2 separate regions of the Homo sapiens genome follow, and region 2 is linked to region 1. Evidence: fine-mapped expression QTL. A gene starts in region 1. The other region holds a variant in brackets. All regions are shown on one strand. Distances are between the middles of the regions.

What was found. PIP is the estimated chance that this variant, and not a neighbour inherited with it, causes the effect.
Region 2: its variant is the best candidate, but not a certain one, in a credible set for the expression of CNPY3 in whole blood (TOPMed, PIP 0.83).

What each region holds. Positions count from the first base shown.
Region 1 is chr6:42,928,071-42,930,976 of GRCh38, reverse strand. CNPY3 (canopy FGF signaling regulator 3) reads right to left here and starts at 1,497. Exons shown (of 6, transcript NM_006586.5): 1 at 1,256-1,497. The coding sequence starts at 1,406. It overlaps CNPY3-GNMT (CNPY3-GNMT readthrough), which reads right to left and starts at 1,497. Exons shown (of 5, transcript NR_134892.2): 1 at 1,256-1,497. RefSeq lists enhancers at 779-888, 1,199-1,458, 1,101-1,602, 1,909-1,958, 1,969-2,018 and 1 more.
Region 2 is chr6:42,949,844-42,952,749 of GRCh38, reverse strand. All of the region lies in intron 1 of CNPY3-GNMT (CNPY3-GNMT readthrough), which reads right to left. Among named protein-coding and RNA genes, the nearest start is that of GNMT, 9.5 kb to the left of the region's middle. The variant T/C (reference allele first, on the strand shown) is at 1,245.

The DNA.
Region 1 (2,906 bases):
CAGAGGTTGCAATAAGCCGAGATCTCGCCACTGCACTCCAGCCTGGGCAACAGAGCCAGACAGTCTCATAAAAAAAAAAAAGGAAAAAAAGAAAAGAATGTACGGGGGAAGGCACAGGCTTGAACTCATACTGGGTGCCCTACCAGTGAAGTCGGCTTATCTCTAAAGCATCCTTTTAATCTCTCTAATGGAAGGATTATGTGTCCGAAACTTACCCCAAACCCACTTTCCAGTGTTTAGGGAACATCTGGCCTGATGTAGGCTTTCAATTCAGATGAGAGATTCACAGCCAACTTTCTGGGGGCCCTGGGGTTACGGGGCTAGGAAGGCAGGCATGACTGTAAGGTCTGAGGAGAAAACTAAGGGACGGAGTTGAGGAAAAAGAAATAGGTCCTTTATAGTCCTGGCTCGCTGGTAGCTCCCTCTCTCTCTCTCTCTGTAGTTCCTCAACGCCTATGTCTTTGGGACTCACCTTTTCTCCAAAGTCCTAAAATCTTCTTTCAAGTTCCCCATAGGCTCTATTGTTCCCCCAAAGGGCTCCTCAGATCCAGATCCTCCTCCTCACACACACCCACAGTCTCCCATTTAATCATCTGTATTCTCAAAACATTTATTGAGTGCCTACCAGACACTGTGTGAATACGTATCTAAGACAAAAATTCCTGCCTTCGAGGAGTTGTTAGTGGGTGCAACAGACAACTACACAGATTGGGTTGCAGTGAGGGCAAAAGGGGAAAGTCTTAGGTTTTTTTCCCCCAAGATGAGTCATCTGGAGCTTTTCAGTTCCTCAAACTCGTTCTTAGCTTCTCAGCCGGCAGGCCTCTGCCTCTGTAGTTTCCTGAGTGGGCCCCTCTCTTTCCACTTCTCTTCATCCGGCTAACTCCTAATGCCTCTTCGTGCTTCCTGTATGAAGCCCTCTTTGACTCCCCTCTGCACACAGCCTTCGCCCACCCCCTCCCCCACTCCAGGCTAGACCAGATGCTCCTCGTCCGGCCCCCAAAAGGAAGCTCTGTACCTCCCCTATCATGGCATCTACTACTCTGAATTATCATTGCTTGTTTCTACCAATGTGTGAACTCCAGGGGTACCGGGACCAGATCTCTCGTCCGCCGCAGCGTCCCGGCGCAAGCCTGTTCAAGGAAGGAAGACACCCTGCAGAGCTCGGAACCTTGCAACCCCCGACGCTGCTCCGCAAGCACCACCGCTGGAGCCAGCCCCTCCGGCAGGATACGCCCCACGGGCCCCGCCTCCTCACCTTCGCATTTGCTGGGCAGGCGAACCCAGTCGTTCTCCTCAGCTCCGGCCTGGCTCGGGCCCAGCTCCGGGGCCGGCAGCAGCAGCAGCAGCAGCAGCAGCAAGGGAAGAAGCAGAAGACAGCGGGACGCGGGCTCAGGCATTGAATCCATGGCCCGGCCGGGCCCGGACCCTAAAGGACCGGGCGGTTCCTCCTCCCGCGGCGCGCGCGGAGCAGTTTCCCCTCGCCGCTTCCGGGACTGCACACGTGCCTCCGAGCAACCACGACAACAGCTAGCCTCCCGCCCGCCCTCCTCTCGCAGCCGCAGCCCGCCTTCAAAGCGGACCAAGGCCCGCGGACGGCGCAGCCAATAGGCTTTCTGGGGTTTGCTCTCTAGCTAATGGGAAGACTATCTTTTTACGCCCTTGGCCAGTAAGAGAGCAGATGGTGGCCTCAGCGACCTATGGCAAAGTCCTTTCCCACCCCCTAACGGAGGCTCTGGGAGAGAGAGGATGCAGGACCAAGACCCGAGAAGAAGCCTGCGTCTGGGCCTGGGTGGGACGGATTCAGGCGCGCAGGTGCTGGAAGATGTGGGGAAGGCCGTCTTCGCGGCTTTCTCCGCCTCCTCGAACGTCACTTCCCTCCTGGGGTCCTAATGCCGCAAGTCCTTACTGAACATCTGTTTTTAAATTTTATTATTGGTATTGTGGTTGTTATAGCCGGGCACTCTTGTAGGCGCTTAAGGTGCAAGCAGGACGACTCAAACTGTCCCCAGCCTTCACACTTTTTTAGTAGCCAGTAGATTTGTCCTAGTGAGAACTAGAACAAATGACTTCCTCTCTGAGCCTGTTTCTATTTGTATGACGACAAAGTGATCCTCCTAGCTGCTGTGGGAGCTTGCCTGTTGTTGGGAAGCTCAAATAGGTTAATAGAATTAAAGCTTATCGAGCAGATTGTAAAAAGTTCAGGCATTAATTTTCTTTTTGTATGTAATCCCAGCCCCTTTTACTGCCCTATTATTTATTTCTTGATTCTGAGCTCTCAGAAGGCAGAAATTTAGCCGATTAACGATTGTCTCTCCCTTCCGCTTCCCCAGCAACAACAGGGTGCCTGGCACAAGGAGATACTCAGTAAAACTCTCATCTGCTGTGTCATTAAGGGGAACACTTAATGGCTCACGCCTGTAATCCCAGCACTTTGGGAGGCCGAGGCGGAAGGATCACCTGAGCCCAGGAGTTGGAGACCAGCCTGGGCAACAGATTGAGACCCTGTCTCAACAAAGAAGAAGAAGAAGAAAAAGGCCAGGCGCCGTGGCTAATGTCTGTAATCCCAGCACTTTGGGAGGCCAAGAAGGGAGAACTGCTTGAGGCCAGGAGTTCGAGACCAGCCTGGTCAACATAGCGAGACACCCCCCCCATCTCAAAAATAAATAAATCAAAATAAAAAATAAAGAGGAGGCCGGGCTTGGTGGCTCACGCCTATAATTCCAGCACTTTGGAAGGCCGAGGTAGGTGGATCACGAGGTCAGGAGTTCAAGACCAGCCTGGCCAAGATGCTGAAACCCCATCTCTACTAAAGATACAAAAAGTTAGCCGGGCGTGGTGGCACACGCCTGTAATCCCAGCTACTCGGGAGGTGGAGGCAGGAGAATTGCTTGAACCTGGGAGATGGA
Region 2 (2,906 bases), 22 kb before region 1:
AACTGAGAGTGGCGCTAAGTCCCTAAGGTTTGGTCACACTCTCACTTAAATGACAGCCTAACCAAAAAGGGTAATTTTTTAAACAAAATTATGGAAGGCCATTGTTTTGGACTAGGCTCATGCACTAGGCCTCAACAAACCAAACCAAAATGGAGTCGCTCATGCTAGGACTTTAAGGAAACACATAGATTCTAAAACAGACCAAGTTTTTTTTCTCCTGCAAATCTCTATGACAAACCTTTCTTTTTTTTTTTTTCTGAGACGGAGTCTCACTCCCTCGCCCCCAGACTGGAGTGCAGTGGCTCAATCTCAGCTTATTGCAACCTCCACCTCCCAGGTTCAAGCAACATTCCTGCCTCAGCCTCCTGAGTAGCTAGGATTACAGGCATGCACCACCCCGCCCGGCTAATTTTTTTGTATTTAGTAGAGACAGGGTTTCACTATGTTGGCCAGGCTGATCCTGAACTCCTGACCTCGTGATCTGCCTGCCTCGGCCTCCCAAAGTGCTGGGATTACAGACGTAAGCCACTGCGCCTGGTCAATATAACAAACATTTCTAACAGCATAGGTATCCACCCCCTGCAGTTCCCATTAAATGTTTTAACCAAATTCATTTCCTCTTGCCTAGAGACCATCAAGCTTCAGCTGATCATGCAACAAAGCTTCCAGCCAGTTCCAGGTGAAGACATCACCCCTGGCCATCAAAAAGCTACCCTGCCTCCACTAGACAGAGCAGGGTGAGAGTTCCATGATCCCTAATAGGTGGGGACCATCCCCCAAGCCAGCATGAAGCAGTTACAGAAAAAAGACCATCTGTCCCTCTGCCTCCCATAAAGATTTATGGGGATCACATCTCAGGGGGCAGATGAGGCAGGAAAATAGGGTCTGGAGGCAGGTAACATAAGGCCAATTCACACTTCATCTATAACAGGAAATATCCTCTCCTTAGGGCATACATCATTAATAACTTTGCAATTGTAACTTTACTTCATCTTCTTCATTTACATAGGGCATTCCCCAAGTAGAGGGTATTTAAACTCACAAACATTTTTAACAGGGCCTTTGAGCCCCTATGCTCATTCTCGCTCCCACACTGTGGAGTGTACTTTCATTGTCTTTTTTTTTTTTTTTTTTTTTGGGATGGAGTCTCGCTCTGTCGCCCAGGCTGGAGTGCAGTGGCGCAATCTTGGCTCACTGCAACCTCCACCTCCTGGGTTCACACCATTCTGCCTCAGTCTCCCAAG[T/C]AGCTGGGACTACAGGTGCCCACCACCACGCCTGGCTAATTTTTTTGTATTTTTAGTAGAGATGGGGTTTCACCGTGTTAGCCAGGATGGTCTCAATCTCCTGATCTTGTGATCGGCCCGCCTCAGCCTCCCAAAGTGCTGGGATTACAGGCGTGAGCCACCGCGCCCGGCTCATTTTCAATAAAACCCTTCATTCCTTCCTTGTTTGTGCATTTTGTCCAATTGTTCGTTCAAGATGCCAAGAACCTGGACACCCTCCACCATTAACACATGGACAAAGTCCAGGGCCGGGAATGGGGGTGCTTGGTGTCCTTGCTATTCTTTATTTTTTTTTGAGATGGAGTTTCGCTCTTGTTGCCCAGGCTGGAGTGCAATGGCACGATCTTGGCTCACTGCAAACTCCACCTCCTGGGTTCAGGCGATTCTCCTGCCTCAGCCTCCCAAGTAGCTGGGATTACAGGCATGCACCACCACACCCAGCTAATTTTTTTGTATCTGATCCTACAGATGCATCTTTGGCAACAGGTTTAGAAAGCCTGGATTGGGGCCGGGCATGGTGGCTTATGCCTGTAATCCCAGCATTTTGGGAGGCTGAGGCGGACGGATCACCTGAGGTCAGGAGTTTGAGACCAGCCTGGCCAACATGGTGAAACATCATCTCTACTAAAAAATACAAAAATTAGCTGGGCGTGGTAGCAGGCACCTGTAATCCTAGCTACTCAGAAGGCTAAGGCAGGGAGATTTGCTTGAACCTGGGAAGCAGAGGTTGCAGTGAGCTGAGATTGTGCCACCGCACTCCAGCCTAGGTGACAGAGTGAGACTTTGTCTAAAAAAAAAAAAAAAAAGCCTGAATTGGAGAATTATAAGTAAATCCACTCTTTATTTTACAGAATATTCTGGGGAAAATTTACTCCACTACCCTTAGATTTTTTTTTTTTTTAATCTCATGTTAATTATCTTGTCTGGGCATGGTGGCTCATACCTGTAATCCCAGCACTTTGGGAGGCCGAGGGGGGCAGATCACTTGAGGTCAAGAGTTCCAGACCACCCTGGCCAACATGGCAAAGCCCTATCTCTACTAAAAATACAAAAAAATTAGCCGGGCGTGGTGGCACGCGGCTGTAGTCCCAGCTACTTGGGAGGGTGTGGCACAAGAATCACTTGAACCGAGGCGGCAGAGGTTGCAGTGAGCTGAGATCAAGCCACTGCACTGCAGCCTGGGTGACAGAGTAAGATTCCGTCAAGTGATTCTCCTGCCTCAGCCTCCTAAGTAGCTGGGATTACAGGCATGCGCCAACACACCCAGCTAATTTTTTTGTATTTTCAGTAGAGATGGCGTTTCACCATGTTGGCCAGGCTGGTCTCGAACTCCTGACCTCGTGATCCGCCTGCCTCGCTTCCCAAAGTGCTAGGATTACAGGCTTGAGCCACCTTGCCCGGCCTTAAAAATGCATGCTTGGTCAGGAGCGGTGGCTGAGACCTGTAATCCCAGCACTTTTGGGGGCCGAGGTGGGCAGATCACTTGAGGTCAGGAGTTGGAGACCAGCCTGGCCAACATGGTGAAACCCTGTCTCTATTGAAAAGACAAAAATTAGCTGGGCGTGGTGGCAGGCGCCTGTAATCCCAACTACTTGGGAGGCTGAGGCAGGAGAATCGCTTGAA